Regions from separate parts of the Homo sapiens genome. Here regions 2, 3, 4, 5, 6 and 7 are each linked to region 1. Evidence: fine-mapped expression QTL. A gene starts in region 1. Each other region holds a variant in brackets. All regions are shown on one strand. Distances are from middle to middle.

Region 1 (4,411 bases):
TCTTTCTAGATGCTTCTTGGGCCAGTGGATTTTAGGAGAGCGAGGTATATGTGGCTGAGGTACATCACAATCAGCAGAGAAGCTTTAAACACTGCTGAGAGTCACTGTCCCTGCTGGCCTTGGGTTTCTTCTTTATTCACTCTTCCTTTTTTTGAGACGGAGTCTCGCCCTGTCGCCCAGGCTGGAGTGCAATGGCGCGTGATCTCGTCTCACTGCAACCTCTGCCTCCCAGGTTCTGTAGCAGGATGAGCCGCAGACAAAACTCCTCAGACACGGAGTTAAAGAAGGAAGGGGTTTATTCGGCCGGAAGTATCGGCAAGCCTCCTGTCTCAAGAGCCTAGCTCCCCGAGTGAGCAATTCCTGTCCCTTTTAAGGGCTCACAACTCTAAGGGGGTCCGCGTGAGAGGGTCATGATCAATTGAGCAAGCAGAGGGTACTGTGAATGGGGGCTGCATGCACCGGTAATCAGAACGAAACAGAACAGGACAGGGATTTTTACAATGCCTTTCCATATAATGTCTGGAATCCATAGATAACATAACCGGTTAGGTCAGGGGTCGATCTTTAACTACCGGGCTTAGGTCAGGCAGGCCCAGGCCTGGTTTCGGGTCTGGTTCTTAGGCGCCGGGTTACCTGCCTTTAATTTCGCTTCTCTTTCCTTTTCTGAGTATAAAACTATATGAGAGGTTCTGTCTCTCTTCTCTCAGTTCAAGCGATTCTCCTGCCTCAGCCACCCGAGTAGCTGGGTACAGTCACGCGCCACCCATGCCCGGCTAATTTTTTTGTATCTTTTAGTAGAGATGGGGTTTCACTACGCTGGCCAGGCTGGTCTCAAACTCCTGACCTCGTGATCTGCCCGCCTCGGCCTCCCGAAGTGCTGGGATTACAAGTGTGAGCCACCGCACCCGGCCCTCATTTTTACAAATGTAATTGAGTACTTGTTTGTGTACACTAGTAGACGATGTGCTTCTTGAGAGTAAAGCCCAGGTGTTCTACATCCATGGTTCAATTAATGCATTGGTATCTTTTCCAACCTATGGCATTTGAGATACAACTTCAAAAGGATCTGCTGACAGAAATAGGGCAAAGTGGTTCTGGTATTTTTTTTTTTTAAGTTTTTTTCTCACTAATGTTCTTATGATTTCGCTGTACTGCAATGTTAGCTGAAACAGCACAGATATCAGGAATGGCATTGTTAAGACTGACCTTAGACAAAAACCCTGAAGTGAGAGGTTACATTTTGGGTTCTCACCATACTCTTCCCCCGCTCTTGTCCTAATTGTCTAAAGCTTGCTTCCCTTCCTCATCGTATCAGCCTCCCACCTGAATCTTCCCTTTTCCTCCTTCACACTCATCTTTCTTGTGCCCCTGTCCCCCATTTTTCCCTTTTGTAAGCCATTTTCATAAGGATCCTTCCAAATATTTCCCCTATTGATTGGACAACCCGTAGGTGGCAGACTGTTCTGGGCCAAGGCAACCAAGTTGAGCAGGGCCAGCAATCAGTGTCGGGAACTTCTGCAGGGCACTTCAGAATCAGTGTTGGGAACTTCTGCTTTCTATTTTTCACGGACACAGACAGGAACACAGATATGCGAAAGCAAAACAATCAAAAAGCATTTTCATTTGTTTTTCAGGTAGTAGGAAAGAGTTCCAGATTCCCATCCTTCTGAAGCCAGGAGGGAGGTTCCTAAGAGGAGGTTAGGGCAAGATGGAGACTTCTTTTTAAACTAGTAGATTTCGCAAATTGCAACACATACATTATCTAGTCCACGCAAAGGACAGGCCTTGGGGACACGGCACGGGGAACGTGTTCCACCTGGACGACTGAATCAGAAGTCTCTCCCCCATCAATTGAACGCCTCATTATTTTTCTTTCTGTCTTTTCTTTCTTTTTAAGGTAAATGAATTGCTTCTTTTTCGTTAGGTGAGGCCGGCAGAGAACAAGAAGAGCTGAAACGGAGGCGAGGTTAGTACCCAGCAAAGACCTGTGGCGAGGAGAGACAATGAAGAGGACCACGGGACTGGACCCTGAGAAAGGCAGAGGAGACGCTGGCTGGTGGGGCCCGCAGGCGGACAGCCACGCAGGCAGGCGGAAGGCTCGGCTCGGCCTGGGACCGCTGCAGACCCGGCCTCCGCGCGGGGCCGAGGCGCCTGGGTGGGACCGAGGAGGCGGGGCCTTCCCGGCGGACGGATGATGGACAGCCTGACTCTCCAATCGCGTCCTTAAAAGGGTGCGGGCAGGCCAATGAGCGGACAGCGAGGGCCGGAGTGGGGCTGAGGCTTCGGTGCAGAGCTGGAGAGCCGCGGCTGGGACCGGAGTGGGGAGCGCGGCGTGGAGGTGCCACCCGGCGCGGGTGGCGGAGAGATCAGAAGCCTCTTCCCCAAGCCGAGCCAACCTCAGCGGGGACCCGGGCTCAGGGACGCGGCGGCGGCGGCGGCGACTGCAGTGGCTGGACGATGGCAGCGTCCGCCGGAGCCGGGGCGGTGATTGCAGCCCCAGACAGCCGGCGCTGGCTGTGGTCGGTGCTGGCGGCGGCGCTTGGGCTCTGTAAGTGATGCCAGGACCAGGGCTGGGGCCGGGGAGTGGGGCCCCCGGGCCCGACACACGCCCATCGCGGCGGTCGCAGGCCAGGCGCGCGCACTGAGAGCCGAGGTGGGGAGGGGGCGCGGCCTGCGCTCTCTGGGGCCGAGGGGACCCAGCCCATGGGGAACGCGGGCCTCCGCGACTGGCCGGGAAGGCGCAGAGCCTCTTTCTTCTCTTTCCTGGATCCTGGAGTGCGGAGGAGGAGGGGAGAGTGCTTTACCTTGCTCCTTCCCGGGGGGCGGTCCAGGGGAGCGGACCCGGCGGGCGGCTGCGGTGAGCCCTCGCGGCGCACCCTGCCCTCTCCTCGTGGTGACTCTGGATCGTCTAGGCCCTCCCGGATTCTGACTCAGGAACTAGGGTTCTGGCGTTCTTCACCTTTGGGAGGTGGCGGAAAGTTGCAGGTTTTTCATTTGTAGGGCCTTTGTTGATTTGTTTCCTGTTAAGCCAGGGTTTTGTTGTAAGTTCCCTTTCCCATGCTCTCATTCAGTTTTAAGTCTCCGTAATAAAAGAGTCTCATTTCCGTGGTCTGCAAAACGCCAATAAAAAAATATTGTTACTTCTAGGTTAGAATGCAAAGAGCTTGGAATACCAGTGAGATGGCCTGGCTTAAAAGAATTTGGTCAAATCCATCATAATTCCAGACGTAGCCACCATAATTTGACAAGACATAGAGCATTAAAAAGCATAATTTTCCTAAAGGAAAAAAAAAGCTCCTTTTTCTTACCAAATATTGTGACTCAAGCTTAAGGTAAACCTCGGGCTCAATTTATGGGAATTGGATGACTTGTTTTATGGACATCTGAAGTGGTATCTGCCACAGGACTTTTCTGTGTTGTTGTTCAAAGCAAAGTACTTGTTGCTGTCTCCGAATTTAGTTAAATAATAGTTATAAAGAGGGCCAGCTGCTAAGAAACCACGTAGATTTTTTTCATTCCCTTTGTTTTCAAAATGTCAGTTATGATTTAGCATCACAGTATCTGAATACCAGAGTTTACTCAGTAATTTCTTTCTTCATGGAAAAGTTCTTAATATAATCCTTGGATCAGGGAAACTAGGTGAAGTTCTGTTGGATCACCAACTGTTCCACTTAAACAGTGATTCCAGGGGCTGTAAAGCATAAATGTAAAAGTCTCCCTACCCTCCAGGGGTTGACAGATGATGACACACTTTGTGTAAGACACAATCCATTCTGTATTTTGTCTTAGAAAAAAAGGTTAAAAGTGTGTTTGTTGGTGGTGGTATTTGTGTTTAATCAAACAAGTAGAAAATAGCCTAAAATTAAGGTTTATCAGAAATATGCTTCAGACAGAATTGTTATGCATGAGAGGTCAGACATTGCTATGGAGGACAAAGCAGTTAGGGTGATCTTAATTAAAATCAGGGTATTAAACGTAGAAGGAGTGCAAAACTACATAGTAGTGAAAAGATCACTAGAGTAATAGCCCCATACAACTTGGACGTAACTCTTCAGTAATGAAGATGAATGTTGATATGTAAAAATCAGCAGCTGATGTTATTGGTTCAACTTAGAAAATTATTGAATCTAAAATTCTTGCCAAATCACCTCTTTTCTGGTCATGGATACTGCACATAAGAGTTTATCTTTTACAGGATAGCTTCTAAAGTTTTATCAAGACAGTTACTCAGCAAACATTCACTGAGCACCTTTTAAGTGCTTAACACTTAAAAGGTGGGAGGTTAGGTCTCACTGTGTTGCCCAGGCTGCTCTGGAACTGAAACTCCTGGGCTCCAGTGATTCCTCTGCCTTTTCCTCGCAAGCAGCTGGGGCTACAGGTGTGTGCCACTGTGTAGGGTCAGAAGCACATT
Region 2 (4,411 bases), 40 kb after region 1:
CTCACCGTAGTTGGTCAGAAACTGCGGCTCTGTGCTTGGCAAAAGTTAATTTGGATTTTAGATGCTGTGTGCAAGGAAACCATGTGCAGTTTTAAGCAAGGATCTTCACTGAAATTTCTCGCTGCAATCAACTACGCAGAGTGCCCAGCTCTCAGCATTTGACACAGTTGGCCACTCTTCCCTTGTCTCTCATGGCATCGTGATTTCCTGGGATACCTTTGGTCTCTTTGTCCATAGCATTCTCTATCTGGGGTACACTCACAATAGGCAGAGGAAAAACATGGTAACCAGGGTGGCTGCTGCAACATATTTGAGGGGGTCAGGGTAGGCAATGAGGTCCGAGAGGTAGCCAGGAGTTAGCTCATGTAGGACTTTGTAGGCCACTTGAGGACTGGCCTGATCTGGCTGATGGGAAACCCATAGAGGATTTTGAGTAGAAGAGTGATATGATCCAACCTGAATTTTAATGAGATCTCTTTGGCCTCTCTGTGGACTAGTTGCTGTGAAGTGGGGAAGGCTGAAGGAGGCAGACACCAATTAGGAAGCTATCAATACTTAATCCAGGTGAAAGATGACAGTGGCTTGGACCAAGATGGTGACACCAAATGAGGCAGAGAGAGATCAATTTCTAGATAGGTTTCTTTTGTTTTGTTTTGTTTTGTTTTTTGAGACAGAGTCTCGCTCTGTCACCCCGCCCAGAGTGTAGTGGTGTGATCTCAGCTCACTGCAAGCTCCGCCTCCCGGGTTCACGCCATTCTCCTGCCTCAGCCTTCCGATTAGCTGGTACTACAGGCGCCCGCCACCACACCAGCTAATTCTTTTGTATTTTTAGTAGAGACGGGGTTTCACCATGTTAGCCAGGATGGTCTTGATCTCCTGACCTCGGTGTTCCGCCCACTTTGGCCTCCCAAAGTGCTGGGATTACAAACGTGAGCCACCGCACCCGGCCCCTCTAGATAGGTTTCTAAGTAGAGATGACATGTGTAGCTGACAGCTTGGAGGAAAGTTGTGCAAAAGAGAGGAGTCACAAAACAGTCCAGGGTTTTGGTCTCAGCCACTAGAAAACTGGTGTTACCATTTACTGATTTGGAGAAGACCATGGAAAGGAAGTTTGGGGGGTGGGAATCAGGAGTTTAATTTGGACATATTAAATTTGAGATGATGCCAATTACATCCAAGCAAAGTTGAATAGGCTGTGTGTGTGTGTGTGTGTGTGTGTGTGTGTGTGTGTGTGTGTGTGTACAGGTGTCATCAGCATTTGAAACTGAGTGAGGTCACCAAGAGAAGGAATGTTAAATAGATACGCAGTCAGAGAAATGATCTGGGCTCTTAATCATATAGAGGTCAGGAGAACCAGGGAAGGAGCAGTCAATGAGATAAGAGAATCAAGAGGGAGAGGCATTCCAAAAGCCAAACTGTTAAAAAACAAAAAAAAAGGTTTTAGCAGGGAGTAACTTTCAAAGGTTTTAGATAGGGCAATAAGACAAGATTTGAGAATTAACCATGGAGGTCATTGCATTCCTTAACAAAAACAGTTTCTATGGAGTAACGGAGATGAAAGCCTAAATTGGATTTATCCAAGAGAACAGAAGAGGAGAGAAATTGGACACAGTGTGTACAGACAGTTCTTTCAAGATTGATAAAATAAAGGAGGACAAAGGGGCCAGAGCTGCAGGGAGATGCAGGGTCAAGGTTTTTTTTCTCTAAACCTGGGATATAAATATAAATATGTATGTTTATATTGCTGCTGGTGGTAATTCAGTAGTGAGTGAAAAATTCAGAAGAGGGAGAATTGCTGGATCAATAAATGTCCTTAGGTAGGCAAGAGATGAGATGCAATGTGCAGTGGAGAGGTTCATCCTGGAGAGGGATGCAGACAGACACTTTCTACATAGGAGTGCAGGGAAAGCAGAATGGGCACAGATGCAGGGAGGTGGGTAGCTATGGTGTCTGGACATAGGGAGGTTCTCTTCTCATTGCTTCTGTTTTCTC[G/A]GTGAAATAAGCAGCTCAGTCATTAGCTGGGAGTGAGAAACCAGAGGAAGTGGAAATTTGAGGTTAGAGAGGAAGGTTTAAACTAGTCCTCTAGGGAAATGGAAAGCAGATGGATTAGGGCAATGTGGGTGGATTGCTAGACAGCATTAAGAGTCCCTTTAAGGTTAGTGACCATACATTTAAGGCGAAAATAGTCAGTGGGATTGTGTGCTTTTGTCCAGCTGTGGTCAGCCACCCTGGTGGAGATGCATAGTGGATAGAGAATTGAATTTAACCAGGATAGAGGTTCCAGGTGAAGGCCCTGAAGGGAGAGGCAAGAGAGCTGATTGTGTATGCAAGGGGGTGAGTATAATGGTGGCCTATGGGGTTTAGTCTGAGTAAGGCAAATGAAGACATGCTGGGATTTTAGTTTCTGATGCAGCTTAGGGATCAGTGAACTCAGGGTTTTGGAGGATATTGGAAAGCTAAGAGGTGGTCAATTAGGGAGTAGAGAAGCCTGAAACTACGATTCTGGAGTGGGTGCAGGTACTGATGATTGGGTCTAGAGCTAGTGATTCTCAACTGGGGGGATTTCACCTCTGAGGAGGCATTTGCAATGTCTGGAGACATTTTTGGTTGTCACAACTGGAGGCAGAGGAGATACTGCTGTCATCTAGTAGAGGCCAGGGGTGCTGCTCAACATCCTACAAGGTATAGCACAGTTTCCCACAACAAAGGATTGTCTGTGGCAGTTGTCAGTAGTGCTGAGGTTGAGAAGCCCTGGTTTAGGGTATAAAAGAAAAACTTCAGCTGAATTAAATTTAAAGGAGTTTAACTGAACAAAGAATGAACTGCGAATTGGGCAGCCTTCTGAGCCAAGGTAGGCTCAGAGACGCCAGCGCAGCCACGTGGCGGAAGAAGATTTATGGACAGAAAAAGGAAAGTGATGTACAGAAAACGGGAGTGAGGTACAGAAACAGCTGCATTGATTATAGCTCAGCATTTGCCTTACTTGAACACAATTTGAACAGTTGGCTACATTTGATTGGCCAAAACTCGGTGCTTGGCCCAAGGTGATTGGCTACGGCCTGTTTACACCTACACTTGTTATAGTTCACAGTGTACAGAAAAACCCTTAGGCTGAACTTAAAATATGTAAGGAGGCAGCTTTAGGCTAAACTTGATTGAACAGGTATGACCATAGAAATGAGTGGCTGGGGTAGGCCTGATCTTACCCAGATTATTGGAGAAGATAAACAGACTAGGGTTTTAGAAGGTTTATCTTACAACTGATGAAATCTCCAAAAATGATGACAAGAGTAGTATTAGAGAAAAGTGTAGATAGCCAGGGATGGGAGGAAGTTAATTTCTCAGTGTGTGGCATCATTTTCTTTTTCTTGAGCTAGCTGATGGGCTAGCTTTGGATTTCATAATCCTGGCTAAGAGCTACACGTTCAGATTAGCCAAAGAGTGTTGTGTGTTTTTTAAAAAGCCACCTGTTTATTACCTAACTTTGGTATAATGAAATCTGTGTCTTAAATAGATGCCTAAAAGCCATTTGGGAATTTGGTTAGTCTTTTTGCTCAAAATTCTGTGACTGTAAACTTGGACACTTGGTCTAATTCCATCTTTAAATAATGTCTCGGGATGACAAGTCTTGCAGCTAGGCCTCGAGGAAGGGATCTGGTTTAAGAAAATCCTTGAAGAAGGCTGGGTGCGGTGGCTCACGCCTGTAATCCCAGCACTTTGGGGGGGCCGGGGCTGGTGAATCACCTGAGGTCAGGAGTTCGAGACCAGCCTGGGCAACATGGTGAAACCCCGTCTCTACTAAAAATACAAAAATTAGCTGGGCGTCGTGGTGGGTGTCTGTAATCCCAGCTACTCGGGAGGCTGAGGCAGGAGAATTGCTTGAACCCAGGAGGCGGAGGTTGCAACACTGCACTCCAGCCTGAGTGACAAGATTGAGACTCGGTCTCAAAAAAAAAAAAAAGAAAGAAAGAAAAGAAAATCCTTGAGAAACTTTATTTATAGACTTTTAGAGACTGTGGCTTTCCAGTACTCATCACCATGGAGAAAACTAGTCAAAATCACACAGAGTGAATAAGGGTTGCAAGCCAGTGCTGCTTCCTGGAATAAGCTGGTCCACTAGTCTAGTCTTGTGCTTTGTCCTTCATTTTGAACTCAAGTGCCCTGGGGCTGCTTTTCTGCGTACCCACAATAGCAAGGAACTCTTTTGTTTGCATCTCCTCTGAAAGAAATGCTTGTTTTGAGGTTTGGACCGCAAATAATAATCTATTGTTCCCTGTAATAATAATCCACCCTCTTTCGCAGAAAAAAAAATCTGCTTGATGCAGTATGGCTATCAGTTTATTTAAAAGAATAGCCAAAAGTGCCCATTATGTCCTGAGAATAAACATTTGCAAGATGGTTGGGAGGAATG
Region 3 (4,411 bases), 50 kb after region 1:
ACCTGTGGCCAACTAACTTTGTTAGCTTGTAAGTAGGGTAAAATCTCAGACCCTTCACGGTTCTTAACAAGCATTTAGGTCATATGAAATGCAGGGTAAATATTTGATAAATGTTATAATAATAACCATTATTCTTTATCAGTGATCATTTAGGCATTGTGGAAGATGATGAGTTAGACATACCAGTTAAGAGGCCATAGTCCAAGATGATGAAAACATAAAAACAGATATTGTCAGTGGGAACCGAATAGAGAGAAGAGAGAACTGAGAGAAACTAATGAGACATTGACAATATTGGGGGATTAACTGGATAGGAAGAAAGAGAATCAAGGATGACTTCAAGATTTATGGTTTTGGAAAGAAACAGTAGCCATCAGTGAAGACACGATACATGAAGAGGGGAAGATGAAGTTTGTAAGAGAGGGTGACAAGCTTGGGGGAGAGGGGCAGCCAGGTGGTAAAGTGAGTAGGCAAGGAGTCTAGAGCTTAGGGGACGCTATTGATGGAGAGAGAGGTTTGGGAGTTAAGAAAATCTAGATGATCATTAAATCATAGGAATGGATGAGTCTGCACTGGGGTTTTCACCGTGCTCAAAGGGTTCTGAAAATGTTCTGTTTGAATTGCTAATAGAGCTGGTTTCTATCCCCAGCTCCACCATCACCCCGTCCATTAACCAGAACAAAGACATCAGGCCTCCAGCATAGCTGCTTGGATTAGAGCCAAGTGTGAGGATAGATCCCCTCCCACTGGGCCTTAACCCTGCTTCCAGGTGCTGAGTTTGACAAGGTTTACTTTGAGAAGACAGTTCCTTTGCTGAAAGCAGGACTGAGGAGAGACTGAGGAGTGGAAAGAGAAAGGGGCTAAAGGCTGAACTTTCAAAAGCCGGCAAGAGTATCTTGTGTTATCTGGGCTTTGTTCCTTTCACACACCCATGACTTTTCCATAGGAAACCAGAAGGAAGAGGGCGAAACTCAGATTAGCTGATCTGAGATATTTAGGATTCTTCTCCTTTGTGCTTCTGTGTATCTTAGTGGTAAGCTAACTCAACACTAAGCTTTCTGAAGCCTTGGGAATCACTGGGCTCAATCATGGTGTTACTGGAAGAACATTGGCTTTGAAGACTCAGATGGGCCTAAATTTTACTCTGGGTCCCCAATTTACTATCATTGGTACCTTGGGAAAATGGCTTCTCTTAAGTCTCCATTTTGTCTTTTATAAAATTATGGGTGGTAATAATTATATCAATGAAATATTGAGAGGATTAGAGGTGATATATGAGTCTGATTCTTCCATTGAAACCTGGCAGGGTTGAGTGCCGTGATCTCTAAACTTCTGTCTGGCTTAGATTCCATAACTTGTGATTTGTAATATGATGTTGCATTTCTTTTTTTTTTTTTTTTTAATTGATCATTCTTGGGTGTTTCTCGGAGAGGGGGATGTGGCAGGGTCATAGGATAATAGTGGAGAGAAGGTCAACACGTGAACAAAGGTCTCTGGTTTTCCTAGGCAGAGGTCCCTGCGGCCTTCCGCAGTGTTTGTGTCCCTGGGTACTTGAGATTAGGGAGTGGTGATGACTCTTAACGAGTATGCTGCCTTCAAGCATCTGTTTAACAAAGCACATCTTGCACCGCCCTTAATCCATTTCACCCTGAGTTGACACAGCACATGTTTCAGAGAGCATGGGGTTGGGGGTAAGGTTTATAGATTAACAGCATCCCAAGGCAGAAGAATTTTTCTTAGTACAGAACAAAATGGAGTCTCCTATGTCTACTTCTTTCTACACAGACACAGTAACAATCTGATCTCTCTTTCTTTTCCCCACATTTCCCCCTTTTCTTTTTGACAAAACCGCCATCGTCATCATGGCCCGTTCTCAATGGTCGCTGTCTCTTCGGAGCTGTTGGGTACACGTGCAGAAAGGCTGTCACTTCACACTTGGAAGATTGCACAGCGGCCAGGCAGAGGCGCTCCTCACTTCCCAGACGGGGTGGTGGCCGGGCAGAGGCGCTCCTCACTTCCCAGACAGGGTGGCCGGGCAGAGGGGCTCCTCACATCCCAGAGGATGGGCGGCCAGGCAGAGACGCTCCTCACTTCCTAGATGGGGTGGCAGCTGGGCAGAGGCTGTAATCTTAGTACTTTGGGAGACCAAGGCAGGTGGCTGGGAGGTGGAGGTTGCAGCGAGCCGAGATCACACCACTGCACTCCAGCCTGGGCAGCATTGAGCATTGAGTGAGCAAGACTCCATCTGCAAACCCAGCACCTTGGGAGGCTGAGGCAGGCAGAACACTCCAGGTCAGGAGCTGGAGGCCAGCCCGGTCAACACGGCAAAACCCCTCTCCACCAAAAATACAAAAACCAGTCAGGCGTGGCCGCACGTGCCTGCAATCCCAGGCAGTCGGCAGCCCGAGGCAGGAGAATCACAGGAGCCCGAGGCAGGGAGGTTGCAGCGAGCCAAGATCACGGCAGTACAGTCCAGCCTCAGCAACAGAGGGAGACCGAAAAAAGGAGGAGAGAGA[G/A]GGGGAGAGGGAGAGGGAGAGAGATGTTGCATTTCTTTCCGTATGAAGTCTTTAAAAGAACCTTTCATAGCATGCACATTACAGAGTTTAGGAATTCTGCCTTTGAGAATAGTTCATGTGTTCCTTTTTTCTAATTGCAGTTTTTCCACTACTCCCAAGGGCAAGTGTACCTTGGGAATTATCCACCATTTAAAGACAGAATCAGCTGGGCTGGAGACCTTGACAAGAAAGATGCATCAATCAACATAGAAAATATGCAGTTTATACACAATGGCACCTATATCTGTGATGTCAAAAACCCTCCTGACATCGTTGTCCAGCCTGGACACATTAGGCTCTATGTCGTAGAAAAAGGTACTTCCTTGAGTATTTTGGCAGTAATAATGCAGTCTCCTTTATCTCATGTTTGGTTGGAAAACATGAGTTGCATTTCATGGTGGGTTTGGAGGGAGGATTTTTGCCATACAGTTGTGCTCCCTGTTGCCACGAACCTGTGGCTCTACCAAACACACTTGGAGCTGGGAAACTTGTTGCTCATTCTGACCCAGAGTGGCTGATTTCTCCATTTTTATTCCTACCGTCTGGTGCCTATTGGTCTAATTTCAGGAGTATGAATTTTTCAGTGTTAATTAGAAGAAAGACCAAATTCATTATGTTTGGATGTGATGGGCAGTGGGAAAGAAGGAGATTCATACTGTTTTATATTCTCCAGGAGAAAGCTTTCAACAACAGCACAGTTATTTCTTCCTTTTGATTTTGAGAACAAACAGGAAATGCAGGTTCTGGTGTCTCATTTTTGAGACAAAGTCTGTTTTGTTGGAGAGTAGATCCAGGTAAATTCACACCTCCGGTTTTTCTTTAGAGCACTGAGAGGGATTGTAGGTGTAGAAATGCTTAGTTCCATAGTTCATTCTTTCTCATCTAATATTCACATGTCATGAATTACATAGTAATAGGATAGATAGTAGGATCTCATAGTTTGGATAATAAAAGAGGGTACGGTAACTGCTAAATGAAGATACTTGCTCGTTAATTTAATAAAATTCCATGTTTTCTCTCTGTAGCAATGTACCTTAAAACTATTTTGTTCTTTCTCTCTAGAGAATTTGCCTGTGTTTCCAGTTTGGGTAGTGGTGGGCATAGTTACTGCTGTGGTCCTAGGTCTCACTCTGCTCATCAGCATGATTCTGGCTGTCCTCTATAGAAGGAAAAACTCTAAACGGGATTACACTGGGTAAGAAACACTGTTTTTTTAGGGCAGGGGTGGAGGGAGGGAATCAGGGTTTATAGAAACTTCTGTATTTAATGAAAAAAGGATTTTAAAGAATTAACTACTATTTTCTTTCATGTCAGAATCAGGCAGTCTCCTTAGGAGGTGTTCTAACATGGGCAAGTGGAAATCAGTGGGCCTGCTATTAAATGTGGAATATGATTCTAATCTCTGTTCCAGTTTCCTTCTTAGGTTTGGTGAGATGAGCTGCTCAGCAGTCTGTGCTCTGTGTTTCAATACCATCCACTATGCAATTAGTATTCTTAAGACATCACTTACCCAATTTAAGAGTTTAATTTCAATTTCTTGCTAATAAACTCACAAGGTGGTTCTTTCCAGTTAGGAAATATAAAACCCTAATTAAGAAGTTGTGAGCTGGAATTAGTGGCATGTGCCTGTAAGTCCCAGCTACTTAGGCTGTGGCAGGAGGATTGCTTGAGCCGAGGCGTTTGAATCTAGCCTAGGCAACATAGCAAGATCCTGTCTCTTTAAAAAAAAAAAAAAAGAAAGAAAGAAAGAAGAAGAAAAAGCAGTGGTTTTAATAAACTACCTCCCCCAGCCCAGTGTGATGATGGTGCAGGGCTTTTCCTTTTTGTAGTTCCCCTACCCCACTCCAAGCTTAAGT
Region 4 (4,411 bases), 22 kb after region 1:
GTCAAGGCAAGTGTATCACCTGAGGTCAGGAGTTTGAGACCAGCCTGGCCAACATGGCAAAACCCCGTCTCTACTAAAAATAGAAAAATTAGCCAGGCGTGGTGGCCCTCACCTGTAGTCCCAGCTACTCGGGAGGTTGAGGCAGGAGAATCACTTTAACCTGGGAGGCGGAGGTTGCAGTGAGCAGAGATCATGCCACTGCACTTCAGCCTGGGTGACAGAGCAAGACAAAAAAAAGAAAAAAAAATCTTTGATCTTATCAAATTGTTCTTGTTTTCCATAATATCAAAAACCCGGCATATAAATATATAACAAGTATAAGAGTGTATCGCCTAACTATATTATGGGCAGATACCTTAATAGTATCTTTCAAATAAAAAAGATACTTGCCAACTTTTAAAATAAATATATATGGAGTGCCTGAGGGAATTTCTTAAGGAGTCCATAGTCTATCATCAGTCTACCATAATCAGAATAGGAACTATAGTTTATTTTGGAATGGATTGTGAAGATTTTCTCTCACTCTGTGGGTTGTCTGTTTACTCTGCTGACTGTTCCTTTTGCCACACAAAAGCTCTTTAGTTTAAGTCCCAGCTATTTATCTTTGTTTTTGTTGCATTTGCTTTTGGGTCTTGGTCATGAAGTCTTTGCGTAAGCTAATGTCTAGAAGGGTTTTTCCAATGTTCTCTTCTAGAATTTTTATAGTTTCAGGTCTTAGATTTAAGTCCTTGATCTATCTTGAGTTGATTTTTGTATAAGGTGAGAGATGAGGATCCAGTTTCATTCTCCTACATGTGGCTAGCCAATTATCCCAGCACCAGTTGTTGAATAGGGTGTCCTTTCCCCACTTGATGTTTTTGTTTGCTTTGTCAATGATCAGTAGGCTGTAAGTATTTGGGTTTATTTTTGGGTTCTCTATTTTGTTCCTTTGGTCTATGTGCCTATTTTTATTACAGTACCAGGCTGCTTTGATGACTGTGGCCTTATAGTATGGTTTGAAATCAGGTAATGTGATGTCTCCAGATTGTATGCAGGCTCTTTTTTGGTTCCATATGAATTTTAGGATTGTTTTTTCTAGTTCTGTGAAAACTGATGGTGGTATTTTGATGGGAATTGCGTTGAATTTGTAGATTACTTTTGGCAGTATCATCATTTTCACTTTTTTTTTTTCTTCGAGACAGAGTCTCGCTCTGTCGCCAGGCTGGATTGCAATGGCGTGATCTTGCCTGACTGCAACCTCTGCCTCCTGGGTTCAAGCAATTCTCCTGCCTCAGCCTCCCAAGTAGCTGGGACTACAGGCGCACATCACGCCCAGCTAATTTTTGTATTTTTAGTAGAGACGGGGTTTCACCATGTTAGCCAGGCTGGTCTCGATCTCTTGACCTCGTGACCCTCCCGCCTCGGCCTCCCAAAGTACTGAGATTACAGGCGTGAGCCACCGCGCCTGGCCTTCGCAATATTAATTCTTCCTATCCGTGAGCATGGGATGTGTTTCCTTTTGTTTATGTCATCTGTGATTTCTTTCAGCAGTGTTCTGTAGTTTTCCTTGTAGAAGTGTTTCACCTCCTTGGTTAGGTATATTCCTAAGTATTTTGTTTTACTTTTTTTGCAGCTATTGTAGAAGGGGTTGAGTTCTTGATTTGATTCTCAGCTTGGTTGCTGTTGGTGTATAGAAGAGCTACTGATTTGTTTACATTAATTTTGCATCTGGAAACTGCTGAATTCTTTTATCAGTTCTGGGAGCTTTCTGGAGGAGTCTTTAGGGTTTTCTAGGTAAACAGTCTTATCATCAGCAAACAACAACAGTTTGACTTCCTCTTTACTGATTTGGATGCCCTTTATTTCTTTCTCTTGTCTGATTTCTCGGGCTAGGACTTCCAATACTTTGTTGAAGAGAAGTGGTAAGAGTGGGCATCTTTGTCCTATTCCAGTTCTCAGAGGGACTGCTTTCAACTTTTCCCTATTCATTATTATGTTGGCTGTGGGTTTGTCATAGATGGCTTTTATTACATTGAGGTATGTAATGGACAGGCATTCTAAGCCCTTTACAAATATTAACTCATTTCATTCTTGTAATAACTCTTTGAAGTCGGTACTATTAGAATAAACTTAAAAGTATGAGAAACTGAGGCATGGAGGGCTTTTTGCACAAGGTCCCACATCACTCTTTCTTGTCTCGGGTAACCCTGTGATTCACATAGTTGCAGACCACATAGTCACACC[G/A]GAAGTTTTTCAGGAAACCTTTCTAGACATCTTGTTAAAAACTTACAAAGGGGACAACTTTTGATGTGTAAAACAATTAGGAAGCATGTCCAGAGTCTAAGTGTTCTTTAAAAACCAAAAAAAGGCCGGGCACAGTGGCTCATGCCTGTAATCCCAGCACTTTGGGAGGCCAAGACGGGTGGATCACCTGAGGTCAGGAGTTTGAGACCAGCCTGGCCAACATGGCAAACCCCTGTCTCTACTAAAAATACAAAAATTAGTGGGCCATGGTCGTGTGCGTCTATAATCCCAGCTACTTGGGAGGCTGAGGCAGGAGAAACACTTGAACCCGGGGGTCAGAGGTTGCAGTGAGCCGAGATCGCACCACTTCACTCCAGCCTGGGCGAAAGAGCGAAACTCAGTCTCAAAAAAAAAAAAAAAAAGAACCTCCAAATAGCAGTTTGCCCATTTTCTCCTTCCAAGTTCACATATAGACCTTAATAAAAGTTATAGACTCCAACAACTAGTAAATATTTTTTTCCACTTGTTTCGTTAAATTTATTTCCATTAAATTGGGAGTAAGATCAAAACAGAATAATGTTTACTGTCATCAGTTTAAGAATAAATGTTGTGCTTACTCCGCAGAGGCGGATGGATCCACTACTTCTCCCCCCACTGCAAAATTTGGTTAAGATGTGGAAACTGATGATACCATATGTGCACCAGGACGGTACGAAAAGGGTTTATGACTCACTTACTGAGGCTTTTTGGGGAGAGCAGGGCAGGCTTCCCATGCAGGTACAAGAATGGCTTGAGAAAGCAGGAAAAGGATACTGGCTCTCCTTTTATGGTGATAAGTTGCTGAGTCTGGAGTGAAGGTCCTTATATGCCCCTTCAGCCAGGTCTTGGTTTGAACTTCCCACCTGTTCCAAAGGATGGCTCACTTGGGCTTTCTTATTAGCTTGCCCTGAGGAAAGGGGTACAGCTTGAAAGCTCTTGGCAGTCAAATATCAAAAATGATGTCAGACTCTTTATTACAAATATATTTTTAAGTGCTTGTCATTGTTTATGTTATGGGGCAAAAATCTTGCATTGTACTAAACACCATGTCACTAATAGTGTGAATAGAAGATTCAGCAGACTAATGTCAAGAATGTTTTTGGAACCTTGAACACAGGGAATATCCTGTGTGTCTTTTAAAAACACGGAAAATACTTAACATCTCTATTTTGTTTGGGTTAACACTGATGATGCTGAAATGTTGGGTATTGATTGCCTGGGTCACTATGGGCAAAGAAGCTTTTTTTGTTTTTGTTTAGTTTTATGATATTACTGATTTCTGTGTTTTGTCATATTCTTTTTGTATTTTATTAAACATGTTTTTAATAAATGGGCACTCTTATTTTCAAACTTAATAAATAGGACTCATTTTACTATGCATATCCTGGGTTTTAAATTCTGAGCTAAGAAACAAGAGATAGAAGAACCAAATTTGGGTAAAATTCAGAGTCTTAGATGCCAGAAGCCAGGGAGACGCTGGAAAACAATTATTGAGATGTGTTATAGGTTAACTGATAGTTGGAAGACAACATGCCTTTCAGGTTTGTGGTTTACTGCCTTTCATTAATTCTGACACAGTTTTTAATATTTTAATATCTCTGATATTGGGATATGCCTTACAATTGTTGGCGAGTCATAGCCAGCATTTTTATTTCTTGGGGACACAGAAAATAATGTGTCTTACCCTCAGTGGTGTCTTCAATTACATGAACTATGACAATTTTTACACCTTTATAAGTCTTTTAAAATAAAAAATTCATTTATACTTCAGAAAAAATACCTATGATTAGACCACGAGTTAGGGGAGACTTTGCAGTGGTGATTGCCTTGGAGTTGCCTTGAAGGAAGAGTGGGAGTTGGCCCAACGGGAGTGGGTTGGTGGAGAAGGCATTCAGACTGAGAGATAGCATATACAGCATATTATAAAGAGTGTGCTGTGTTGGGGAAAGGGCTAGAAGTTTGATGTGGCAAAAATGTAGGCTCTGGGATGAGATGAGAATGATAAACTGGCTGGAATGGTAACCTGGAGCCAGCCTTTGAAAGGCTCTGTGTGCCGTGCGAGGGAGTTGAGGCTGTCTTGGCATGTTAGGCAGCATTGTAAAGCAGCTCTCCCTCCCTGTTTGCATCAGCAAAGGGGTGGGCAGCATTG
Region 5 (4,411 bases), 70 kb after region 1:
GCAGCGTCTGCTCTGTGTTCTGTGTGGAATGGAGAAAAAAACGCCTGCCCTGCTGCCTTCCATGTTCATAGGCCCAGCCCAAGAGAGTGACACACAGTGCTGGCCCTGAGACATTTCCACAAAGTGGTCAACTCTGCCTTGCATCCTAAAACTTTTTGGGCATCTATTTTGAAAACTATAGGAGCCTTTGGAAGGCCTCTTATGTTTGGAGGGGAAGGGTGTTGAGATTGTCACCATCCTTCAAGCTGAGACTCCTGGTGAGCCTTTGCCACCATGAAAACCACATAGCTGACCAGGGCTGTGCTTGAGGTACAGAGGACACACATTGTAGACAGGCCTGTGTCATGTTTCCTTACAGTCGTTTTTTACAGAGAAAAGGGGCATTGTTTTTTCACTGCTTTCTCAACAGTTCCTGTGAATAAATGAAACATTTCGGAGCTCCCTGAGAGCAAGAGCCTTCACTTCTTCTTGCGGTGCCGGGACCATGTGTTGGTGAAGCTGGTGCTGTGGGGGCCACTCACTCGAATGACACCTGGAGGCCTGTTCCTCCCTTACCACTCCCTTCCCCAGCCCGACTTCTTGGCCTCCTGCCCAACCAGACACCTCAAACTCTGTCAGTGCCCTGGCATTCTGGCAGAGAATCCTCACCAGTTCTCACCAACCTTCCCCCCAGGCAAGGGCAGCTGCCAGCATGGTGCTCTGCCAGGACAGGTTTCCCTGAAGGAAGCTGCTCACACTGAGATGAGCCTCTCAGGGCAGGACCTCTTCCCAAGCCCTGCACACCCACCCCTGCAGCCCTTTTGGCTCCCCTTTTCCCTGTGCCTCAGCACTCCTTTCCTGGTTGCAGATAACGAACTAAGGTTGCCTAAAGGGCAGATCTGCCCTCTCCATGTCTTCGTCCTGGCAAACAGGGTCGTCTTAAAATTATGCGCTAATTCTGTATGGGAGCACTCAAAAGGCATTACTTAGAGATTGAAATTTCAAACTATCTCTAGTTTTTCAATGGAAATATATCAGCTAGGGAAAAACCATCAAGCTCATTATTATTTTTTGATCTTCAGTTGTATTTTTGTGAATATTTTAATACATCTTTTTCAATTTCTGAATTGTGTTGTGTGCTCATTTTGACCAGAATAGAAAAAGAGATATGCCTTTCACTCATATCATTCCAGCTACACCTGCCTTCTTTTCTTCAAAAATGCCGTCCGTGTGCCTGCTTCTGGGCCTTTGCACATGCTGTTCCCTGGGCCTGAAGCATGCCTTCTGCCAATATTCCTGTGGTTTGCTCTCTGACTTCCTTTAAGCCTCTGCTCAAATGTTACCTCCTCAGGGAGACCTTCTGTGATATATAAAAGAGCAAGCCCCCCACCCCACCGCCTCAGCCTTCCTGGCCCCCTCAGTTCTGCTCTAGTTACTCTATTTCTCTCCCTCTTTCCCAGTACACACTTGTCTGTTCTCCCGCATTAGAACATAGTTAACAAGAGACCAGAACCTTGCTGTTTTGTTCACTGCTCCGTCTGCAGTAAAGGGAACAGCACCTGGCACTTAGCTGCTCAATACATGTTACGTGGATGGATGAGTAGGTGGAAGCATTCATCCATTCAGCAACCTACACTGAGAACAATCCTGTGCCAAGCACTGTGCTAAGCATAAGGAAACAAAACAAGACAAAGCTCCTCAAGGAGCTTGCCACAGGGTGGAGGTGACAGGTGACATGAATGGAAGTAACTAGTAGTTACCAAATACTTGGTGTGAGCCAGGCACTTTGCATTTCTTTCTCTATTATTTCTGTGAGTTAACAGTAATTGTACTAATCTTAATCCCATTGTTTGAAAGATTATATGGCTTACCCAGGGCCACTTAGCTAATAAAGGAACAGAGAAGAGGGGCTGGGCCTGGGGCCGCTGTTTGATCCACAGCCTTGTTCCTAACCACTATGCCCTGTGGCCTCTCACACCAAAAGGAAGTACCAAACTGCTTCCTTACTCAAATAAATGTGCTGAAATGCAGTTGCAGTTTTCTCCCAGTCCCTTAGGAGCTGGTTAGAGAGTCCCTTAGGAACTTGAGAGGGTAGTGTAGTCTAGGTGGTAGGCACAGATGTCTGAGAGCTTTAACCTCAGTCTGGAAGACAATGTGGTGACTTAATTTGTTGAGAACTATGTTACAAATAATGTGTTACTAATAAAACATTGAGGCTTCGCAGTGACTTAGTAATTTTATAAATTACCATGGATTCACAATGAGCCCCTGCCTTGCATAACTTTGGGCTTGCAAAACCTAATGCGTTCTTGAGTGGGAGAAGATGAGTTACAGCTGGCAGGAACTCCCCTGGGAGTAATTCTCACATGTGAACAGCATCCATCTTGCGTGATGTGACAAAAAGAAAAGGGATGCTTCCTTCACCACACAAGGGCAGCAGTGAGTGATGGAATCACATTTTTGTCATCTCTGCAATTCCTTCCAAGTCAGCACTAAGTGTCGGAGGGCATCCACCT[G/C]CTGGGGCTCTGGTTTCCAAGCTACATAGGGGCCTTGCCAACCAAAGATGGACTTTTTATTTATGAGAGCAGCTTCCACCCCTGAGGGAGCTGAGTTGAGCAGTGTTTAGAGGAAACTCAGATACTCTCTCACCCCAGTTGGCTCCCTTCTGACCCCTCTGGGTAGTTCCTGTGCTAACTGGACTGGGGAACCACTGACTTCATCCTCCCACTGTGCAGGAAAGGCGAGGGAGCAGCCACGGGGAGGAAAGTGGCATCTGTGGTATTGGTAGAGCTGGTGGTAGGAGCCAACCATCTGCTTTTATGGCGGGTTCTCCCCTGCACTTTCCTCTTGCATAGTCAAGATATTGTATGAACAATTTCAATATATTTTGTTTTTTTGTAGAATTACTTTAATGAAATTACCCTTTGATATAATTTGAAAAAAATTTTTTTTTGAGACAGTCTTGCTCTGTCATCCAGGCTGGAGTGCAGTGGCATGATCTTGCCTCACTGCAACCTCCACCTCCTAGGTTCCAGCGATTCTCCCACCTCAGCCTCCCCAGTAGCTGGCATTACAGGCACGCGCCACCACACCCGGCTAATTTTTTGTATTTTTAGTAGAGATGCCCGCCTCAGTCTCCCAAAATGCTGGGATTACCGGTGTGAGCCACTAGGCCCAGCCCCTTTGACATAATTCTATCAGCCTACATTGAAGTATGTCATAAAAAAGAGTCCTAGGAAACTAGCTACTTATTGTACTTTACTGCCAGCATGGCTTTGAGAACGTTATTCCCTGTCATACATTTTTCAATGTTATAAAGACCCACAGCACAAATATCTCTCTGGATTTAATACCAGATGATATGGTTGAGATCTGTGTCGCAGCCTAAATCTGTCGAATTGTGATACCCAGCATTGGAGGTGAGGCCTGGTGGGAGGTGATTGGATCACAGTGGGTAGATTTCTAATGAATGGTTTAGCACCGTCCTCCTTGGTACTGTTCTCGTGATTGTGAGTTCTCATGGGACCTGTTTGTTTAAAAGTATGCAGCACCCTCCCACTCTGCTCTCTCGCTCCTCCTCCCGCCACGTGAGACGCCTCATGAGAAGCCTCACTACCCCTTTGCCTTCCGCCATATTTGGAAGCTTTCTGGGGCCTCACCAGAAGCCAAAGACGCTATGCTTCCTGTGTAACCTGCAGAACGGTGAGCCAATTAAACCTCTTTTCTTCATAAATTACCCAGTCTTGGGGTTTTGTTTTTGTTTGTTTTTTGTTTGTTTGTTTGTTTTTTGAGATGGAGTCTCACTCTGTCGCCCAGGCTGGAGTGTAGTAGCACGATCTCGGCTCACTGCAACCTCCACCTCCTGGGTTCAAGCGATTCCCCTGCCTCAGCCTCCTGGGTAGCTGGGATTACAGGCATGCGCCACCATTCCCGGCTAATTTTTTTTTGTATTGTAGCGGAGATAGGGTTTCACCATGTTGGCCAGGCTGGTCTCGAACTCCTGACCTCAGGTGATCTGCCCGCCTTGGCCTCCCAAAGTGCTGGGATTACAGGCGTGAGCCACCACACCTGGCCTTCAGTCCCAGGTATCTTTTATAGCAGCGTGAAAACAAGTAATACACCAGGAAAACTGTTTCTTATGAATATTTTGTTTCAAACTAGTCATGTGCACTGACTTGTCACTGATTGTATTTGTCTCTTTGCTTTTGCTATTCTCTAGGTCCTAGCCAAATTTGTGGGTCACTTTCTACCACTGTACACAGATTGTACACTCCATATACACTTTGTACATTAACTTTACTCATAGCTTTATGTGTATCTTGGATTATGTTCAGCTCTATGATCTGTCTCAGTTTTTTCCAGTGATACAATAATAGATGTGTCCTGATTTAGATAGAGAAAGTAGGTAGGCAGAGATTCTGGCCATGGCATC
Region 6 (4,411 bases), 470 kb after region 1:
GGCTAGGCTGGTCTCAAACTCCTGACCTCAAGTGATCCGGCCGCCTTGCCTCCCAAAGTGCTGGGATTATAGGCATAAGCCACCGCGCCCAGCCCATATGTTTTATATTTAGCTGGTTATTTTTTTTTTGTTGTATTTTTTAGATCCCTGGGTTCAGAGAGAGATATGTGGAGTTGAGGAAGAGAGCTGAAAAGTATAAAGTTTTAGACATATTTAGCCTTGCAAATGGAGACAATAGCATAAATAAGTTAAATATGATATCTCTAACTCATGCTTTGTTTTTTGACTTTGTCTTTCATTTTATAAGAACAAGTACGTAAATGGAAAAACTGACAGATTCATTTTGACCAATCACTTACTGAAGGCATATGTGAAACATTAATGAAGCAATTTACTAATGAGAAAATTCAGATAATGATTAATTTTGGGGGATTCAGGAGTATCTATAAGGAGGATGTTAAAAATGTGTTCCTCTGAACTAAAATCAAATAAAAAGGACGAAATTTACAAGTGTGTGTATTTAACACTAATTTCAGTTGTGTAACCTTAGGCAGTCCTCGTTGGCAGACCAACTTTTGTTTAACTAGATCATAAACTTAATGTGTGATGCAGGGGACTGGTTATATGCCCTGCCCCTACACTCCAACTCCCTTCCCCTCCCAGTTTTCACCTCAAGAGTGGCCTTATACCTGCTCCGTACACAGTTGGAAGTAAAACTGCTTAGGGCTAAGTGTTATCTCTAAGTGACCATGGAAGAATTATGGACATTTTTTTACCTCCTGGAAATCATATACAAACTGCCACTTTCTTTTCATGGCATCTTTTCCCCCTACATTACTTAACGTTCCCTTAGATTTCCTCCCAAAATCTGTGCAGTCTTGTAAACAACATCCTTTGTAATTTTCTTCTGATTCTTATCTAGTTATCTCAAATTACTCTCCATCTGCTAATTTTGTCCATGAGTCAAAACAAATCACCTAATCATGACGCTTAAGTAAAGCTACATTTACTAAATATCTATGGTTTGACAAGCATTGTTGTGTTTGTTTATGGTAAACCTGTCAAGGAGTAAAACAGCTGAGCATTTTGTAGTGAAATTAGGTGTGGTAGAAAATAGTATCACAATTCATACTTGGGTGCTGCTCAGGAGACACTTGAGTTTAATGAGCTCCTGATATGATCTGCCTTGGGACTGTTGATGCTTTTGTTGGATTACGTGTGTGCATGTCTTAGAGCTACAAAATAATACCTTGAAAAATTGCCAACTTCATTCAAAGCTCTTTGCAATGCTAAGAGTTTCCCTCAGAATTTCTCTACAAGTTCTTGTTTACCTCATTATTTAAAGCACTTTATTTTGTTGTAGGTTTTGGGGAGTTAGGTTGAGCAAATATCTAACATTCTAATGGAAAAATATTTTTTAAGTTCCATATGAATGTCCTAAAAGTGGCTTTCACAGCACAAATGTTCTATGACCTTCTATGATAGCAGTCGTTCATCACACTGACTGATGTTTAGTTGATTAATTTTCTCATAGTCACAACAGAAGTTGATTTTAATATGACTTGCATGAAAAATGATAAATTTTTACTGCTTTTTTTGTGAAGCTATAATATTGGGCATCTGTAATGTCTTCAGTTTTCAGAATCAAGCCATATTCTGATCTTTTATATCTACTAATGACACCCAAATTTAGAACTGTGTGCTCTGGCTATGTAGAAAAGACTGATTGAAAAAGAAAAGAAAAGACTGCTTTCCTGTGTCTCTGTAGCTCCTCAACTTTTTTTTTAATGTGCTCCTCTTTAAAATTTTTTCTTTCAGGTTGTACCTACAACAGATCATATAGATACAGAAAAATTGAAAGCCAGAGAACAGATTAAGTTTTTTGAAGAAGTTCTCCTTTTTGAGGATGAACTTCATGATCATGGAGTTTCAAGCCTGAGTGTGAAGATTGTGAGTATTATTTTTATTTAAAATTAATATTTTTCTTGCATTCTTAACATCAGACAAAAATATGACTCACTTTGAATAACACTGAGCCTGGCCGGGCGCGGTGGCTCACGCCTGTAATCCCAGCACTTTGAGAGGCTGAGGCGGGCTGGATCGCCAGGTCAGGAGACCGAGACCATCCTGGCTAACACAGTGAAACCCCGTCTCTACTAAAAACACAAAAAGTTAGCTGGGCATGGTGGCGGGCGCCTGTAGTCCCAGCTACTCGGGAGGCTGAGGCAGGAGAGTAGCGTGAACCCAAGAGGCGGAGCTTGCAGTGAGCCAGGATCACGCCACTGCACTCCAGCCTGGGCGACAGAGC[A/G]AAAAAAAAAAAAAAAAAAAAAGAATAACACTGAGCTTTAACATGATGTCATGTACAATTTCACTTGAATCTAGAGTGTATCTTATTGAATATCCATTATAAAATTCACAAAATATTTGTGTATTCTTAAGGCTTTATTTTAGCAAAGCATTTTTAATAGACCTGCCTGGCCACCTTGTAGTTTATTTGTTTATTATTTAACTCTAATGAAGACTGTGGCTTAATTTTCACATTTTGGATTAAAAATGATGTTGATAGGATCTGCAGACGGCAAGGTGGATGTCATTTTTTAAAATGATCCATGTGTTATGATTTCAGTGCATCATTCAACTACCACTTCAATTTTCAGCCTGGTGGCGGGCACCTGTAGTCCCAGCTACTCGGGAGGCTGAGGCAGGAGAAGCGTGAACCCGGGAGGCGGAGCTTGCAGTGAGCTGAGATCGCACCACTGCACTCCAGCCCTCCAGCCTGGGCGACAGAGCAAGACTCCGTCTCAAAAAAAAAAAATAAAATAAAATAAAAGAAGTAGAAAACACACATAACAAGTATGGTTATTCATATTTCTTTACCACTGCATTATAATTGGGTCTCTAATACTTTCCAGAAATAACTCAACTGAAACTTTTTACTAAATGCCTCATTCTTTAAGACCCAAAGACCCAGCTAAAATACCACCTTTTCTACAAGGCCCTTCACAACTCCGTTACACAGAGTTAAATATCTCTTTTCTATACTCCTTTTTAAAAACCTCTCAATTAGGCCGGGCGCGGTGGCCCATGCCTGTAATCCCAGCACTTTGGGAGGCCGAGGCGGGCGGATCACGAGGTCAGGAGATCGAGACCATGGTGAAACCCCGTCTCTACTAAAAATACAAAAAATTAGCTGGGCGCAGTGGCGGGCGCCTGTAGTCCCAGCTACCCGGGAGGCTGAGGCAGGAGAATGGCGTGAACCCGGAAGGCAGAGCTTGCAGTGAGCCGAGATCGTGCCACTGCACTCCAGCCTGGGCAACAAGCGAGACTCCGTCTCAAAACAAACAAACAAACAAACAAAACAAACAAAAAACCTCTCAATTATAGCATTTGTCATGAGATCTGTCAAAGACAGAGACCCTAACATCAAACATTGTTCTTGGGGCATAATGATTGTGGATGCTGTGATTTAAAGAATGAAAATAATACAAAAGCAGCAACAGATTTGTTTTAAAGTCAAATTTTAGCTACTTGGGAGGCAGAAGCAGGAGGATTGCTTGAGCCCAGGAGGTCAAGGCTACAGTGAGCTATGATGGTGCCACTGCACCCCAGCTTGGGAGACAAAATAATTTTATTTTTAGATAAATAAAAAATTTTATTTTTCTTATCTAAAAATAAAATTAGTTTTTTCGGTGGAATCAAAGGATTTTGAAATTGTAGTGAATTTTTAGAGAATCATTTTTTGTAGCCTCCATATTTTATAGATAAGGCCTAAAAAGATAGCTTAAGGTCATGAAACTAATTGCAAAGTTTTCTTTGTATCATCTAATATATATCATTATTCTAGCATTAGATAGTTGTTTTCATAGGCTTTACTTCTTTGCTCACTTATAACTCTAAATTCACTTTTTTTTGTTTAGATTTATTCTCTCTTCAGTTCACCTAGTCTTGTATCTTTCCACTTGTCTACCACCTGTTGAATTGACTATGCTAAATGTTCATTATGAGTTTGCATACCTGGGTGTGCATTTGTATCCAAGGGGGTATATATATCATGTCTATAAGTGGGTCGGTATTTGGAAAGCACATGTGGTTTTGTGGATGGAGTTGCTTGAAAGGATATGTGTATAAATATGTGTGTACAAGAATACATAGTAAGTCTTAAACTGAAGAGCATTTTTTTAACCAACTACTTTAAGCTGAAGTATTAGTTCATAGATATTACTATCCTGTAGTGAAATTTGTAGATGATTTAATCCACCTACTTTGCAGCAATCAACATATTTTAACTATAAAATTAAAGGAAATTGGTTTAGAATAAAATATATTTTAATACTTAAATGCATAATATGACTGCACCAAAGACATAATGAAGCAGTCAGGTACTTATATTTGCATATTGAGTCACCGTAAA
Region 7 (4,411 bases), 57 kb after region 1:
CTACTAATTTGGGTTGTGAACAGGAATATGGTTGTAAATGAAGACATGAAAGTTACATACACATAGGCATAGCATCTAAAAAAGCATTGGAACATTTTTATTCCGCCCTTGAAGCACTATGGAAGTTGCTTTTTTGCTGAAAACAAACCAGAAAAAAGAAAAAGAAACTGTGGTTTTCAAGACAGTGGAACACAAATTATGCAGCACTGTCATCCCCAAAAGAAAGGAAACAGACAATGTGAGCCGTGTTATTGCCCCAGTGTACTGCCTTGAAGCAGTTTCCACACTGCAGTGTAGGTGGGGAAAATGGAAACTGGGCCCAGCTGTCTCACTCAATTGAGAAGGCGGAAATCAGAATTTGGGGAGGTCAAGGAGGCTAAGATTTATGAGGCTGAGTACCAAAGAAGGAACCATAGAGAGAGCGTGCTAGGATGAGCACGAGCACTTCAGAGATTTGGAGCGGGGTCCCCTTGAGTCTTTGTCTGATTACAGAGTTGTATACACATAGGAGAACACTCTCTGAAACCAGGGGAAGAACTACCTGAAATGCAGTAGGTTGCACAATGCCTGGTGCTCACACAGGTGAGGGACTAGTTTGTGTTCCTAAGAGCCAGAGTAGAGAGACTTATAATACACAGGGTATTGGTTGGGGTTCTCAAAATGGTCATACCTAAATGGGTTAAATTAGTACCAGAATAAAGGATGCTATGGACCCACCATAACAAAGCTTAAAAGGAAGCCTTTAAAGAATCAAACTAATCCAAAAGTAATTTAGTTGCATTTTACAACAAAATCCAACACGCTTTATGCTACAACAAAATTCATCACCCAACAATGTACAATTTACAATGTCTGGCACCAATCAAAAACTACCAGGCATGGCCTGGTGCGGTGGCTCACGCCTGTAATCCCAGCACTTAGGGAGGCCAAGGCGGGTGGATCACGAGGTCAGGAGTTCGAGACCAACTTGACCAACATGGTGAAACCCTATCTCTACTAAAAATACAAAAATTAGCCAGGTGTGGTGGTGCACACCTGTAATCCCAGCTACTCAGGAGGCTGAGGCAGGAGAATCACTTGAACCTGGGAGGCAGAGGTTGCAGTAAGCCGAGATCACACCACTGGCACTCCAGCCTGGGTGACAGAGTGAGACTCCATCTCAAAAAAAAAAAAACAACTATCAGGCATAAAAAGAAACCAAAAAATAAAACACATAAGCCAGATATAGTGGTGTGTACCTGTAGTCCCAGCTACTTGAAAGCCTAAGTGGGAGGATTGCTTGAGCCCAAGAGTGTAAGACCAGCCTGGGCAATATAGTGAGACCCTATCTCAAATAAATAGATGGGTGGAAAGAAGGAAGGAAGGATGGATGGATGGATGGATGGATGGATGGATGGATGGATGGATAGATTTAAAAAAATAATAATTTAATAATTAATTACAATAAAAAATCAGGAGAAATCAATCAGAAACAAATTCAGAATGGATGGAAATGATGGGATTCATAAACAAAGACCTTAAAATGAGTATTATCAATCTTATTAGTAAACTTAAAGATGTAAAGGAAAGCTTGAACCCAATGAGGAAAGAAATAGATATCTAAAACAGACCAAAATGGAACTTCTGGAAATAAAAAAAAATTGGATGGTGTTAACAACAGATTAGATACTGCAAAAAAAAAAGGTCAATCAACTTGAAGACATAGCAATAGAAACTATCCAAAATGAAGCTCAAAGAGAAAGACAGATGGCGGGGTGAAAGTGAACAGAGCCTAACACGGTGAAAACCCATCTCTACTAAAAATACAAAAAATTAGTTGGGCATGGTGGCACGTGCCTGTAGTCCCAGTTACTCAGGAGGCTGAGGCAAGAAAATCACTTGAACCTGGGAGGCAGAGGTTGCAGTGAGCTGAGATCATGCCACTGTACTCCAGCCTGGGCAACAGAGCGAGACTCTGTCTCAAAAAAGAAAAAAAGAAAAAAAAGAA[A/G]GTGAACAGAGCTTCAGTGAGCCACCGGACAATATCAAGCAATCTAATTAGAATCCGAGAAGAAAAAGGGAGAGAAAAAAATATGTAAAGAAATAGTGAAATTTTTAGTAAATTTAATGAAAAACATAAACACACAGAAAGCAATAGCGAAAATTGCTGGGCGCAGTGACTCAACGCCTGTAATCCTAGCACTTTGGGAGGCTGAGGTGGGTGGATCACCTGAGGTCAGGAGTTCGAAACCAGCCTGGCCAACGTGGCAAAACCCCATCTCTCCTAAAAATACAAAGATTAGTTGGGCATGGTGGCAGGCGCCTGTAATCCCAGCTACTTGGGAGGCCAAGACAGGAGAATTGCTTAAACCACAGAAGCGGACATTGCAGTGAGCCAAGATCGCGCCACTGCACTCCAGCCTGGGCAACAGAGTGAGACTCCATCTCAAAAAAAAAAAAATTGACTCTTTACAGCAAAAATAATGACAGCATTTTATGAGGCTATAACATGTGGAAGTAAAATGTATGACAACAGTAGTACAAAGGATGGGGTGGAAGGATGGAAGAATACTGTTGTAAGGTCCTTATATTATCCATGAAATTATAATTTGAAGGTAGACTGTGGTAAGTTAAAGATATATGCTGCAAATTCTAGAGCAAACACTGAAAAAAATAAAAGAGATAGATACAGCTAACAAGCTCTATCTCCGAATGGCAATACTGATAAGAACAAAATTCTGACATATGCTACAACATGGAAAATGGTAAATGCGGATGGTAATAATATCAACGTTGGCATCAGAACAAGAAATAGAACCAGAGATAGAGGGACTTTTTATGATGATAAAGCGATCTACTTACAAAGAAGACATAATCCTAAATGTTTATACTTGTAATAGTAGAGCTTGAAAATAAGTAAAACTGAGAGAATTGGAAGGAAAAATTGACGTATTTACAATCATAGTTGGAGGTTTCAACAAGAAACTTTAATGTAATCATTTCAAAATACTCAGTTAATCCAAAAGTGAGCAGGAAAGGAGGGGAAAATGAGCAAAGGGTAGATGGGGCAAATAGAACACAAATAATGAAGTGGTAGATTTAAACTCAACCAGACTGATGATTGTATTACTATAAATGGGCTGAGTGTGCCAATAAAAGGTGGAGATGGACAAATTGGATAGAAAAGCAAGAACCAATCATATGCTGTCTGCAATAAACCACTTTAAATAAAAAGATCCAGGTAGGTTAAAAATATTAATACAAGGATGAAATTGAAAGCAGAGTCTTGAAGAGATATTTGTACATCCATGTTCATAGCAGTATTATTCACAAGAGCCAAAATACAGAAGCAACCCAAGAGTCCATCAGTATACAAGTGGATAAATAGAATGTGGTATATATATACACAATGGAATATTATTCTGTCTTTAAAAGGAAAGAAATTCTGACACATGCTACAACATGGATGAATCTTGAAGATATGCCAAGTGAAATAAGCCAGCCACAGAAAGACATACTATGTGATTCTACTAATATCCCATACCCTACAGTGGTCCAGTTCATAGAGACAGAAAGTAGAGTGGTAGTTGTTGGGGAAGGAAGAATAGGGAGTTGTTTAATTGGTACAGTTTCAGTTTTTGCAGGATGAAAATATCGTAGAGATTGGTTGCACAAGGATGTAAATGCACTTAACACTACTAAGCTGTACACTTTAAAATGGTAAAGATGCTAATTTTTATGTTATATATATTTTACCACATTTTTTAAACAGTAAAAGGATGGAAATGATATGCTACATTAACACTAATCAAGAGAAATCTGGGTGGTAATAATATCAGAATAGGCTTCAGAACAAGAAATAGAACCAGGGATAAAGACAGACTTTTTATGATGACAAAGTGATCTACTCATGAAGAAGACATAATCCTAAATATTTATACTTCTAATAATAGAGCTTGAAAGTAAGTGAAGTAAAACTAAGAGAATTGAAAGGAGAAATTGACATATTCACAATCATAGTTGGAGGTTTCAACACTCCTTTCTCAGCAGTTGGTAGAACAGGTTTACAGAAAATCAAAAAAGATGCGGAAGACTTAACAGTGAAACCAGTTTGAGCTAATAGACATTTATAAAACACTCCTTCCATCAAGCGCAGAATTCTTACTCTTTTTAAGTACACATGAAAATTAACCAAATATAGACCATATTCTGGTTCATAAAACAATTCTCATTAAATTTAAAAGGGTTGGAATCATATAGAGTACGTTCTCTGGCCACAATGGAATTAAACAGAAATCAACAGAAAGATACCTGGAAAGTCTCAAATATTTCAAAATTGAACAACCCATGAGTAAAACAAGAAGTCACAAGAAAAATTAGAAAATATTTTGAACTGAGTGAAAATAACATATCAAAATTTGTGAGATATAGCTAA

Alleles and levels. Positions count from the first base shown, and alleles are read on the strand shown. Sizes are in standard deviations (SD) of each study's normalised expression. Not every link is listed here.
For the expression in NK cells of the gene that starts at base 2,288 in region 1, allele A in region 4 goes with a lower level than allele G (large effect, 0.86 SD a copy in Schmiedel 2018).
For the expression in fibroblasts of the gene that starts at base 2,288 in region 1, allele G in region 5 goes with a lower level than allele C (moderate effect, 0.50 SD a copy in GTEx).

The links. PIP is the estimated chance that this variant, and not a neighbour inherited with it, causes the effect.
Region 2: its variant is fine-mapped to the expression of MPZL1 in whole blood (TOPMed, PIP above 0.99).
Region 3: its variant is fine-mapped to the expression of MPZL1 in lung (TOPMed, PIP above 0.99).
Region 4: its variant is fine-mapped to the expression of MPZL1 in NK cells (Schmiedel 2018, PIP 0.95).
Region 5: its variant is fine-mapped to the expression of MPZL1 in fibroblasts (GTEx, PIP above 0.99).
Region 6: its variant is fine-mapped to the expression of MPZL1 in lymphoblastoid cells (GENCORD, PIP 0.95).
Region 7: its variant is fine-mapped to the expression of MPZL1 in whole blood (TOPMed, PIP above 0.99).

Annotation. Positions count from the first base shown.
Region 1 is chr1:167,719,695-167,724,105 of GRCh38, forward strand. It overlaps MPZL1 (myelin protein zero like 1), which reads left to right and starts at 2,288. Exons shown (of 6, transcript NM_003953.6): 1 at 2,288-2,548. The coding sequence starts at 2,458. RefSeq lists enhancers at 1-389, 2,616-3,116 and silencers at 1,928-2,297, 2,688-2,757, 2,788-2,927.
Region 2 is chr1:167,759,554-167,763,964 of GRCh38, forward strand. All of the region lies in intron 1 of MPZL1 (myelin protein zero like 1), which reads left to right. Among named protein-coding and RNA genes, the nearest start is that of MPZL1, 40 kb to the left of the region's middle. The variant G/A (reference allele first, on the strand shown) is at 1,993.
Region 3 is chr1:167,769,619-167,774,029 of GRCh38, forward strand. It overlaps MPZL1 (myelin protein zero like 1), which reads left to right. Exons shown (of 6, transcript NM_003953.6): 3 at 2,657-2,870; 4 at 3,618-3,750. Among named protein-coding and RNA genes, the nearest start is that of MPZL1, 50 kb to the left of the region's middle. RefSeq lists enhancers at 382-953, 1,888-2,389. The variant G/A (reference allele first, on the strand shown) is at 2,517.
Region 4 is chr1:167,742,056-167,746,466 of GRCh38, forward strand. All of the region lies in intron 1 of MPZL1 (myelin protein zero like 1), which reads left to right. Among named protein-coding and RNA genes, the nearest start is that of MPZL1, 22 kb to the left of the region's middle. The variant G/A (reference allele first, on the strand shown) is at 2,224.
Region 5 is chr1:167,789,718-167,794,128 of GRCh38, forward strand. It overlaps MPZL1 (myelin protein zero like 1), which reads left to right. Exons shown (of 6, transcript NM_003953.6): 6 at 1-2,202. Among named protein-coding and RNA genes, the nearest start is that of MPZL1, 70 kb to the left of the region's middle. RefSeq lists a silencer at 2,866-3,014. The variant G/C (reference allele first, on the strand shown) is at 2,496.
Region 6 is chr1:168,189,551-168,193,961 of GRCh38, forward strand. It overlaps TIPRL (TOR signaling pathway regulator), which reads left to right. Exons shown (of 7, transcript NM_152902.5): 4 at 1,819-1,950. Among named protein-coding and RNA genes, the nearest start is that of TIPRL, 13 kb to the left of the region's middle. The variant A/G (reference allele first, on the strand shown) is at 2,309.
Region 7 is chr1:167,777,161-167,781,571 of GRCh38, forward strand. All of the region lies in intron 5 of MPZL1 (myelin protein zero like 1), which reads left to right. Among named protein-coding and RNA genes, the nearest start is that of MPZL1, 57 kb to the left of the region's middle. The variant A/G (reference allele first, on the strand shown) is at 1,988.